Linked DNA regions of Homo sapiens. The protein of the gene in region 1 purifies or fractionates together with the protein of each later gene. This does not show direct contact. Each region holds a gene or a part of one and is shown on either strand. Other genes may lie near its edges. The genes, in order: YBX2, RCC1L and NCBP3.

What was found.
Region 2: the proteins of YBX2 (region 1) and RCC1L purify together in Homo sapiens (co-immunoprecipitation; 2 studies listed by BioGRID and IntAct, with this or other methods). This does not show direct contact.
Region 3: the proteins of YBX2 (region 1) and NCBP3 purify together in Homo sapiens (co-immunoprecipitation; 2 studies listed by BioGRID and IntAct, with this or other methods). This does not show direct contact.

What each region holds. Positions count from the first base shown.
Region 1 is NC_000017.11:7,292,962-7,296,705, reverse strand, and holds the start of YBX2 (Y-box-binding protein 2), read left to right. Parts: upstream 1-2,066; 5' UTR 2,067-2,205; coding exon 2,206-2,476; intron 2,477-3,167; coding exon 3,168-3,231; intron 3,232-3,744. UniProt on the Homo sapiens protein: Major constituent of messenger ribonucleoprotein particles (mRNPs). Involved in the regulation of the stability and/or translation of germ cell mRNAs. Binds to Y-box consensus promoter element.
Region 2 is NC_000007.14:75,046,069-75,049,812, reverse strand, and holds part of RCC1L (RCC1-like G exchanging factor-like protein), read left to right. Parts: intron 1-3,744. UniProt on the Homo sapiens protein: Guanine nucleotide exchange factor (GEF) for mitochondrial dynamin-related GTPase OPA1. Activates OPA1, by exchanging bound GDP for free GTP, and drives OPA1 and MFN1-dependent mitochondrial fusion. Plays an essential role in mitochondrial ribosome biogenesis.
Region 3 is NC_000017.11:3,844,789-3,848,532, reverse strand, and holds the start of NCBP3 (nuclear cap-binding protein subunit 3), read left to right. Parts: upstream 1-2,286; 5' UTR 2,287-2,309; coding exon 2,310-2,492; intron 2,493-3,744. UniProt on the Homo sapiens protein: Associates with NCBP1/CBP80 to form an alternative cap-binding complex (CBC) which plays a key role in mRNA export. NCBP3 serves as adapter protein linking the capped RNAs (m7GpppG-capped RNA) to NCBP1/CBP80.

The DNA.
Region 1 (3,744 bases):
TCTGTCCACTGTGCCCGATGCCCCGGAAATCCGAATCTTCAACTCTGAAAGGGCCGGAGGGGTGCGGCGGGCGATAGATAGCAAGTGGAGGGTCAGCGAGGAAGCGGAATCCGGCGGCCTCCGGGAGCGGCCGGCAGAGGGCGCGCCGGGACCGGGAGAGGCGACTGCGGCTGCTGCGGGCAGCTGGCGGCGAAGGAGACGCGGAGGACGCCAGCCCTTGGGAAGCGCACGTGGGGCTTGCCCAGCAGCGCCTGGGGGCACGTGTGCTGCCCCGGGGCGCGCTGCCCTGGCTAAAAATACAACGCGCACCCGCGTCCTCCCTGGTGGGGGAGGCGGCCCTAGGGAGGAGATACTGCTGGAGCCTCGTTTTTCTGGGATTACAGGCGTGAGCCACCGCGCCCGGCCCATTTTCTTAATCTTCCCAGGCTCCCGAGAAACCTGGTACAAGCCTCGCACTGCCCCTCAGTCCTCTCATCTGTGGAATGGGGGCCGTTCATGTATTCGATAAATATTGAACGTGTACGTTGTACCAGGCACTGCTGCAGGCGTCCAGCTTAACTACAAGGCTCTTACTGCTGTGGAGTTTACAGCCCACTGTGTGCAGGGAAATAAAATAAGCAAATGGTCAGGATCATGTCATATTTTCAAAAATGCCATTAGAAAAATAAGGAATGGTGTGATGGCGAAGAGTGGCACGTAAGCTGCTGCTTGGAGAGAGCCACCTGGAGACACGAAGGCGCGTTTTCGGCAGAGGAAACCGCATGTGCAAAAGGCCTCGAGTCCGCTGGAGCTTGACGCCTGGCCGGAGACCACAGCCCCCGGCATACAGACGTGAGAGACCCCAAAGCCAGTCTAGGGCGGTAGACATCAGAGCTGCAGCGGTCGGTATGGGCCACATGGGTGGACACATTGATCAAAACTCAGCGAAGGCCGGGCACGGTGGCTTACCCTGTCATCCCAACACTTTGGGAGGCTGAGGCGGGCGGATCACCAGAGGTCAGGAGTTCGAGACCAGCCTGGCCAATATGGTGAAACCCCATCTCTACTAAAAATACAGAAATTAGCCAGGTTGTGGTGGCGCAAGCCTGTAATTCCAGGTACTCAGGAGGCTGAGGAGGGAGAATCGCTTGAACCCGGGAGGCAGAGGCTGCAGTGAGCCCAGATCGCGCACTGCGCTCCAGCCCGGGCGACAGAGGGAGACCTTGTGTCAAAACAAACAAACAAACAAACTCAGCGAAGAAGAATTGCGCATTGTACTACTTGTAAACCTTGTTTCCAATACAAACATAGGTAGGGGCAGGCCGGGAGCCACCTTGAGGTGGCTCAAGGCAGGAGAATCGCTTGAACCAGGGAGGCGGAGGTTGTAGCGAGCCGAGATCGCGCCACTGCACTCTAGTCTGGGCGACAGGGCGAGACCCTGTCTCAAAAAAAAAAAAAAAAAGAAAAGAAAAGAAAAAGAAAGAAAAAAGAAAAGTAGGGGGTCCTGGCTCATGGGAGCAAGTGTGAGCCGGGAAAACCATTCTGCTGCGCTTTCCAGCCTATCCTGCGGTTGGATCCCGCAGCCCCAGGGTGTGCAGGGCCGTCCTGTGGGGAGAGGGTGCCAAGGGCGGTGGTGGCCGGAAGGCGTCTGCACCTGGCAGCATACGGGCAAGGTCGGTCTCGAGGGTGGAGGCGAGCGGTGCTACTCACTGCCAGAACCGAGGCTGCAGATTCCCGCCCCTCGCTCAGGTCGTTAGGGGCAACCTTGGCACTGCGGCCCCGGCCCCGCCCTTCCCGCAGAGGCCAGGTGGCGGTTGGGGCGCGACCGGCCCGTTTGATTTCCCGCGGCCGGTGGAAAGGGGCGGAGGGGGGAGGGGAAAGGGGCCGCCGGCCAATGGGTTGGGCCGGGGGCCGTCACGTGGCGGCCAGGGGGCGGGGCCCAGGTGTACTTACTGGGCGGCTGGCGGGGGCCGGGGCCGCGGTGCGAAGTCCGGGAGGCGGGGTCGGCGTGCGGTCCGGGGGTGCTGCTGGGCTGGGATTGGCCCGTGGTCGGGAGGCGGGGTCTGCGCGAGCGGCGGCAGCGGGCTGCCATTGGCCTCGGCTCCGGGCCCGCTGCCGGCGTGTGGGCGAGGCTCGGGGCGCGAGGACCGAGCAGGGCGGTGGGTTCGCGAGCCGGGGGGAGGGGCCGGGGCGGTGGCGGCTGTGGCCGGTACTGGACCCGGCGGGATGAGCGAGGTGGAGGCGGCAGCGGGGGCTACAGCGGTCCCCGCGGCGACGGTGCCCGCGACGGCGGCAGGGGTGGTAGCGGTGGTGGTACCGGTGCCCGCAGGGGAGCCGCAGAAAGGCGGCGGGGCGGGCGGCGGGGGCGGAGCCGCCTCGGGCCCCGCTGCTGGGACCCCCTCGGCGCCGGGCTCCCGCACCCCTGGCAATCCGGCGACGGCGGTCTCGGGAACCCCCGCCCCCCCGGCCCGGAGTCAGGCGGACAAGCCGGTGCTGGGTGAGGGGCAGGCGCGCACAGGGCGGCTCTGAGGGGTCGGCGGGCTGGGGGAGGGGCAGTGTGGAGCCCGGCAGGATCCGGAAAACCAAAGGCGGCCTGGCCCGCAGGCCCAGAGCGCTAACTGGGCTGGGAGCTGCGCACCAAAGTGGATTCCCCTGGTGGGAAATCCTGCCGTACCTTCCTGGGAGAGAGGGCGGGGCCGGCAGGTTCAGCTAAGGTCTTGGGGTGGAGAATAAAGCCCCAGGGTCCGGCCACGCCCCCGGGCGGGACACAGTGCCTAGTTGACTGGGTTAGAACTAGGCAAACCTCTGAGCCTGGCAAGCAGGTGCACTGGGGACCCTTGCATTGGGAGGGCTAGAAAAACCCTCAGTTATGACCTGGGGGCGGCACTTTGCAGACCAGGTGAGTACCCAGTTCTAGGTGAAGGGGCTGGATTTGTAGGATGTGGGGAACGTGACTTAGAGTTGGAAGGCTTTTTGAAAGCCTGAGTCCCTGTGTGGGTGATTTCATTTGGTGGACTAGGGTAGGAATACCTTGAAGCTACTAGTGAAACCTGGTTGGCTTGAAGGTAACCTGAATAGGTAATAAGGCAGTAGGCTAGATTTTTTTTTGTTTTGGAGTGTCTCAAAACTGAGTTCAACTCCATCTCTTCCCCCCATCTCACTGTCCCCACTGCATCTCTGCCTGGCAGCAATCCAAGTCCTGGGCACTGTCAAATGGTTCAACGTCCGGAATGGTTACGGATTCATCAACAGGTATCCAAGGAACCCAGGGCGGGGGTGGAATGGGTGTCTTCCCAGCTGGCCTGTGGGACTGGACACCCGCCCAACCTCATCGACCCCTGCGGAGGCACATGGTTGCAATGTCCAGCTGATGCTGGTTGAAAGCCTTTAACCGCAGCACAAATGTGTGCTTCGTGACAAGAGGAAGCCTCCTCCGCATCTTCAAGGGTAGCGGAGGATTAATGATTCAGGAACTTGGCAAACCTGGCTCTGACCCTGCCAGCTTCTCATCTCACCTTCTGGAATTGCTTCATTACTTTTACTCTGACATGCCTTTGGGGCAGAATGTATTATAGGGTTCTCTGTGCCTCAGGGCCCCCGGCTGGAATCCTCAACTGATTTCCTGTTATGGCAGCACTCACAACTCAACTCCCTTAAAGAGCTGTGGCTCATTCGAGCCCTCCACCTGTTGGGACTGAGGCTGACAGTGGGGGTCAGGAGGAAGGAGCCAGAGGCTGCTGCTTTCCTTCAGTAGGCAGCCCCACC
Region 2 (3,744 bases), on another chromosome or scaffold:
CTGTCTCCCAGGTTCAAGTGATCCTCCTATCTCAGCCTCCCGAGTAGCTGGGATTACAGGCTTGCACAACCACACCTTGCTAATTTTTGTATTTTTTGTAGAGATGGGGTCTTGCCGTGTTGCCCAGGATTTTTTTTTTTTTTTGAAAACAGGGTCTTGCTTTGTCGCCCAGGCTGGAGTATGGTGTGATCACACTCACTGCAGCCTCAAACTCCCAGGCTCAAGCTATCCTCCTGCCTCAGCCCCACAAGTAACTGAGATGTGGGATGGGATGACAGGCATGTGCCAGCACCACACCCAAATAATTTTTTTTTCGTTTTTTTTTTAAGAGACGGGGTCTTATGTGTTGATCTCAACCTCCTGGTCTCAAGTGATCCTCTTGCTTCAGCCTCTGGAATAGCTGAGATTACAGGCATGTGCCACCACACACGGCTTATTTTATTATTTATATTTATTTGTTTTATTTTATTTATTTGAGAGATGAGGTCTTCCTATGTTGCCCAGGCTGGTCTCAAACTTCTGCCTCAAGTGGTCTTCCCACCTTGGCCTCACAAAATGTTGGAACTACAGGGGTGAGTCACTGGCTTGGGTGATCTTTATTCTTTAAAACAACTATGTTCAAATTAATCTTCCGTAGGGGATATATTACATCATTTAAAAAGTATTCCAGAAAAGAAGAGAAAAAAAGAGTAAAACTTTACTTGTAGCTCATACACTGGTACCAACTAGTTATTCTTAGACTTGCAGAATTTGGCCTTTTCTGAGTATGTGGGCCCGGGAGGTGACATCTGAGCCACCTGATTCAAACCTCTGCTTCCAGAAACTTTCCAGGACATGTTTTTTTGCTACACGTTGAGACTCATCCCTCAGAGAGGTTCAGTGGTTTCCCAGGGTCACATATCTAAGTTGGAGTCAGAGCCAGGATTTGGACTCAGTTACATCTGACTTTTAAGACAATGGTCTTTCCACGGCCACCCACCTCCCTGGGCGAGCCTGAAGCTGGTGTGGAGAGAAGGCAGCACGCAGTGGCACGGAACATTTGACCAGGCGTTGTCTGGCCTTCCAAGACCCTCTGACCTAAGGGGGAGTGCCACAGACCTACAGCAGGCAGCGAGGGGGTGTGGAGTGGCCTTCACCCCTCATCCCCCAGGGAGCGCCCTGGCTTTCCACAGACAAACATTCCAGCCTGGCTTCGGGGGAGGGCAGGGCATGGACAGCGTGCTGGGCACGTGATGTCCATTCTCTCTCATCCTCCAGACACCTTGAGGGTGGGGTTTCTCCCTCCACAGTGTGCACACGGGGACACGGAAGTCAGGAGCGAAGGGGCTTGCCCCAGGTCTCACGGCCCCTGAGCTCATTGGGTATAATTTGAACTTGCGACTCTGCCTGTAGACGGTGCTTCCCCTCCCCGTGGGCCCTGCAGGTCAGGACCGGTGGGGTCTGGAGACACAAGCTGGGGAGCTCGCTGACTTCTAGCCTCGCTTATACGACTCCTTCCATAGCCCTGGGTCTTAGGTGGTGGTTCTTTTTTTTTTTTTTTTTTTTTGAGGCGATGTCCTGCTTTGTCACCCAGGTTGGAGTACAGTGGCACAATCTGGGCTCACTGCAACCTCCGCCTCCCGGGTTCAAGCGATTCTCTTGCCTCAGCCTCCCCAGTAGCTGGGATTACAGGCATGTGCCACCATGCCTGGCTAATTTTTGTATTTTTAGTAGAGATGAGGTTTCACCATGTTGCCCAGGCTGGTCTCAAACTCCTCACCTCAGGTGATCCACCTGCCTCGGCCTCCCAAAGTGCTGGGATTACAGGTGTGAGCCACTGCTCCTGGCCGGTGGTTCTTTTTTTTTTTTTTTTTTTTTTTTTAATTATTGGCCAGGCGCTATGGCTCATCTCTATAATCCCAGCACTTTGGGAGGCCAAGATGGGCAGATCATGGGGTCAGGAGTTCGATACCAGCCTGACCAACATGGCGAAACCCCGTCTCTACTAAAAATACAAAAATTAGCCAGGCGTGGGGGTGCACGCCTGTAATCCCAGCTACTCAGAAGTCTGAGCAGGAGAATCACTTGAACCTAGGAGGCGGAGGTTGCAGTGAGCCGAGATTGCGCCACTGCACTCCAGCCTGGGCGACAGAGTGATACTCTGTCTCCAAAAAATATATATATATAATTTTATTTATTCATCTGTGTATGTACCCACCTAGGTGGTTCTCACAATGCAGGAGAGGAGTACAAGTTAAAAGCCGGGCACAGGCCAGGCATGGTAACTCAACGCCTATAATCCCAGCGCTTTGAGAGGCTGACGCGAAAGGATTGCTTGAGGCCAGGAGTTCAAGACCAGCCTGGGCAACATAGTGAGACTCCATCTCTACAAAAAACAAATGACCCAGGTGCAGTGGCGTGTGCCTGTAATCCCAGCTCCCTGGGAGGCTGAGGCAGGAGGATCACTTGAGCCCAGGAGTTGGAAGCTGCAGTGAGCTATGATCACACCACTGCGCTCCAGCCGGGGGCAACAGAACAAGACCTTGTCTCTAAACAAAAATTTAAAAATACAAAAGCGGCCGGGCGCAGTGGCTCACGCCTGTAATCCCAGCACTTTGGGGGTGCCGAGGCGGGCGGATCACGAGGTCAGGAGTTTGGGACCAGCTTGGCCAACATGGTGAAACCCTGTCTCCACTAAAAATACAAATATTAGCCAGGTGTGGTGGCGCATGCCTGTAATCCCAGCTACTTGGGGGGCTGAGGCAGGAGAATTGCTTGAACTTGGGAGGCGGAGGTTGCAGTGAGCCGAGATCGTGCCACTGCACTCCAGCCTGGGTGACAGAGCGAGACTCCGTCTCATTGAAAAAAAAAAAATAGAAAAGCTGGTGCCATTGAACTGCAGAGCTGGGCGCCGGAGTAGTCTCCCTTTCTCTGGCTCTCTTGTCCCCACGAAGGACTCACCGCCCAGGGTTCCTTCTTCCCGCACCCCCGTCTTTCACCTGGTGGGCGTTCGTTTTAGCAACTTGTAATTGTGGATAGGGATGTTCCTAAATGGATTCTGCTGAGACTTTTAAGAGAGTCACCAAGGCTAAATATGGTTCTGGTTTTTGGAACTGTTTCCCTCAGCAGCGGAGTTGTGAGTGTAAATTGGCTTAGAAGAAAAACGCCATTTAACCTTGCCTAGGACAAAAATAAAACATGGCTGAGGGCAGTCTCCTCTTGGACTCAGTTCAGAGACCGTGTGAGATTGTCCGCCAGGGGGAGCTGGAACCTTGGGGAGCCTCCCGCTGGTCCCTAGGGCTGGCTCCCAGGAGCCGGGCCCTTGCTGCCCAGGCCACCCGCAGCAGAGACCATCGTGGCTTCCTTTGCTTTGGGCTTGAATGGCCAGAGCCCTCGGGGAGCAAGGACCTGGGGGCTTAAGTGCAGCCGTGAGGAAGCGCACTGTCCCGGGAAAGGTAAATAAAGTGCTCCCTAATGGCTGGGGAGGTTGCTAAGAGGCGGTCGGGGCCCAGTCCCTGCAGAGGCAGCCTGTTTTCTTCTCCGGCCAGCCTCTCAGGCTTTCTGCATCGACGTGCCTTTGCGATTCACTGGGCCCCGTTCTTGTTTGTTTAGTGATTCCTGTAATAGGTTCTGCTAAAGACATTCATTTGTTTAGGGACAGGGCTGGGGGATGACAGCATGACTTGGTTTCTAGCATCCATCTGCTGTGGCCAGGAGTCCCTAATGGTCTTGTCTCCTGGCGTAGGTGCAAAGCTCCGGGGTCGG
Region 3 (3,744 bases), 3.4 Mb from region 1:
CTCAGCAGGCTGCATCGCGAACAGGAAAGGGGATGGGAGATGGTGACTAAGGTGACCACAAAGAGCAAGGCACAGAGGGCTTTCCTGACACGCGCCTAGGAGCCTTGGTGTTTGCCTGATGTCCCGGCTTGTCCTGGACTCCTCATGTACCTGCCGGCTGGTGTGCCAGGGTGCTGGGGCTCTTCTGGATGGCACTGAACTGCAACACTGAATCCTCACCGAATTGCGTCCTCAAGCAACAAGGCATCCTCCCCAGCAGGGTGAGGGGCCTGCCCAGCCTTCTCTACTGGCCTCCTGGTGTCCATAGCTGAGGAGGGATTACTTCCTCCTCTCCCATCCCCTAACCCCACAGGCCTAGTAATGGTGGGGGCTGTGACTCTTACCTATAGCTGGCCACCCCAACTACACATTTTGTTTGAAATTAAACACACACACACACACACACCCGTACATATTCTATGTATGCATTCAACCCATTTTTTTTTTTTTTTTTTGGAGACGGAGTCTCGCTCTGTCGCCCAGGCTGGAGTGCAGTGGTATGATCTCGGCTCACTGCAACCTCCACCTCCCGGGTTCAAGTGATTCTCCTGCCTCAGCCTCCCAAGTAGTGCATGCCACCATGCCCGGCTAATTTTTTTTTTTTAGTAGAGACACGGTTTCACCATGTTAGCCAGGATGATCTCGATCTCCTGACCTCATGATCTGCCCGCCTTGGCCTCCCAAAGTGTTGGGATTACAGGCATGAGCCACCGTGCCCGGCCTCAACCCAATTTTTAAAAGTACTTTGTGTCCCATTCATCAAATAAAACTAGTCCTCTAAAGAGCTCTGTCTTGTGTTTATCCTGTGGTTTAGCCCAAATTTAAGAAAAACTGTGATGTACTGCACCCCTTCTGTTGGACCCTGTATCTACATATAAATTATCACATTTAACCCTCACAACCTCCTTTGTAGGTAGGTAATGGTCCATTTTACTGATGAAGGAACTGAGACTCCAAAGTGCTAAGCAGCTTGCCTAAGGTCACACATGGTGGATGGGGCCCGGCCAGCCAGCTCGAAACCCAGGTGTGTCTGATGCTGACCATGCTCTTCCTTGGTTTATCATTATTTGCTCCTCCATGGTCAGAGCTGGTAGGGCCTCAGGGCCTCAGAGACTGTAGGGTCTCACCTATGCCCTCCTCAGATGGGAAAACAGACCCAAAAACCTGTCCAAGGTTACCCAGGGAGGAAGATGCAAAATCAGGACTCAGGCCGGGCGCGGTGGCTCATGCCTGTAATCCCAAGACTTTGGGAGGCCGAGGCGGGTGGATCGCTTGAGGTTAGGAATTCGAGACCAGCTTAGTCAACATGGTGAAACCCTGTCTCTACAAAAAAAAAAAAAAAAAAGAAAGAAAGAAAGAAAGAGGAGAGGGAGGAAGGAAGGAAAAGAGAAAGAAAGAAAAGAAGAAAGAAAGGAAGGAAGAAAGGAATAAAGAAAGAAAGAAAGAAAGAAAAAGAAAATCAGGACTCAGAACAGCAGCTGATCAGTGACACCCTCGGGACGCGTAGACAACCCCTCTCCCCCACCAGGCTCTCGTTAGAAATATCCGCCGGAAACTATGCTCACAGGTCTACAGTGGATGGCACCCTCAGGAGTCAGGAAATCGGCGTCCAAGTTCTGGCCTTTGGGCAGGTCTCTCCCTCTTGGAGTCTCAATTTTTGTGTATGTAACATGGGCCAATTTTGGGGAGACTTTTAAGAGACAAAGACTGGCAAGGCAAGTAACTTTATAAACCTACAGATTGTCCAGAGGTGATATATCAAGGCTCATTGTAAACTCTGGAAGACTTAGATCCAGCTTTTATCCCTTAAATGGCGTCACCTTGGGTCAATTTCTATGCCTCAGTTTCCTCATATATGAAATGGGGGTCAAAATAGGATCTACTTCATAGAGTTGTTCTAAGGGTTCGAGCGCTTGGAAGTGTCTGGCCCATAGTGATCACTCAGGAAAGTTGGCTTTTAGTACAGCTTTAGCCTCAAGGCGTAGCTACATTGTAACCCTTGACTACCCCGGTCTCCTCCAAGCTCCGTAGTTCCCGCAGGCCCCGCCCCCGTCCCCGCTCAGTCCCGCCTTCTCCTCCCCAGGTCCCGCCCGCGCAGCCGGCCCGGTTTTCTCCCGCCACCAGGGGGCGGCGGCGCTAAGGGCGGCCTTCTGGGCCGAAGCCGGCGACGCTCTAGGTAGCTGCGGCGGCTCCTCTGTGGCCAGTGGCAGCGGCGCTCTAGCCGGCGGCCGTGAGGGGCGGGCTCTCAGTGGTGCGGCCGGCAGGCAGCGATGGCGGCCGTACGGGGCCTGCGGGTGTCGGTGAAGGCGGAGGCCCCGGCGGGGCCGGCCCTGGGGCTCCCGTCCCCTGAGGCGGAGTCCGGTGTTGACCGTGGCGAGCCGGAGCCCATGGAGGTGGAGGAGGGCGAGCTGGAAATCGTGCCTGTGCGGCGCTCGCTCAAGGAACTGATCCCGGTACGGGCGGGGGTCGGGGGGTAAGGAAGAGGTCGCGGGGCTAGTGTCTAGCGCCGGAGGGGGCCGGAAGGGGCGGTGGCCGGAGCCCCAGCCGGGGAAGTCAAGGGAGCGGGAGAGGAGGGAGCCAGCGTCCTGGGAACGGGAACGCCGGGCTGGAGGAGGGACGCGGAGCGGGAGAAAGGACGCCGGGGCGCCGGAAATGGGTGTTGAGGGGGCTGGGGGGTGGTGGCGGAGAGCTGGGAGGGAGTTGAGGACCCCCCTCCGCTGCCCCCTCTGAGCCGCGCTGTGCAAGGAGGTGAGTGAGGAGGGGCTGGAAGGATGAGATAAAGGGGGAGCCCTGGGCGGGAACAGAACCAGGGGCAGCCCAGAAGGAGCTGTTGGGTGGCGCCAGCAACCAGGTCTCCTTGTGGGTCTTGCCCCGGAGGAATTTGTATCTGGGAAACATGGCACTCGCTCTTTGTCTTGAGAGGGCTGCACTTGTCAGCAGCAGAAACTCACTGTTTCTGTCGTGACTTCGGGGTCATCTTGCCCCCCCCGCAGCTCCAGTGACACCTACACCGTGGCCCCAGCATCTGACTCTTAATGAAAGCAAACTAGCAGACGACCAATAGACATCCTTGGTCCCTCCTTTACCGCGCTGGGGATGGTGAGAGGTGTTTTGCTTGTGACTTGGTGGCTGTATATCCAGTTCTCAGAGCTGGTTTCAGGCCTGGATGACTCCTCTTAATTTCTCACCTAACATGAATTACTTTTGACCACATGTCAACATATTTAGACTGAAGTTATGGAGAAAGGTTAAAGTATGATCGCTAGAGATGGCAAACGTTATAATTATGATTAACAACAGCTAATATAGTAGCATTTACCATTCACTATATTGTGTCACTTAAATATACTGGCCGTGCACGCCTTTAGTGCCAGCTATTCAGGAGTCTAAGTTCCAGACCAGCCTCAGCAATATAGCAAGACCCCTTTGAGGTCCCCCCTTTCCCCTCTCCCCATCTCAAAAACAAAACCAAAATAAATAAATATTACTGCAGTTGTGAAGCAGGTGTTATCATCCCTTTAGTCATTCAGTTCAACATGGTTTTTGTTTTGTTTTGTTTTGAGACGGAGTTCGCTCTTGTTGCCCAGGCTGGAACGCAATGGCGCGATCTCGGCTCACCGCAACTTCCGCCTCCCGGGTTCAAGCCATTCTCCTGCCTCAGCCTCCTGAGTAGCCAAGTACAATGGCCTGATCTTGGCTCACCGC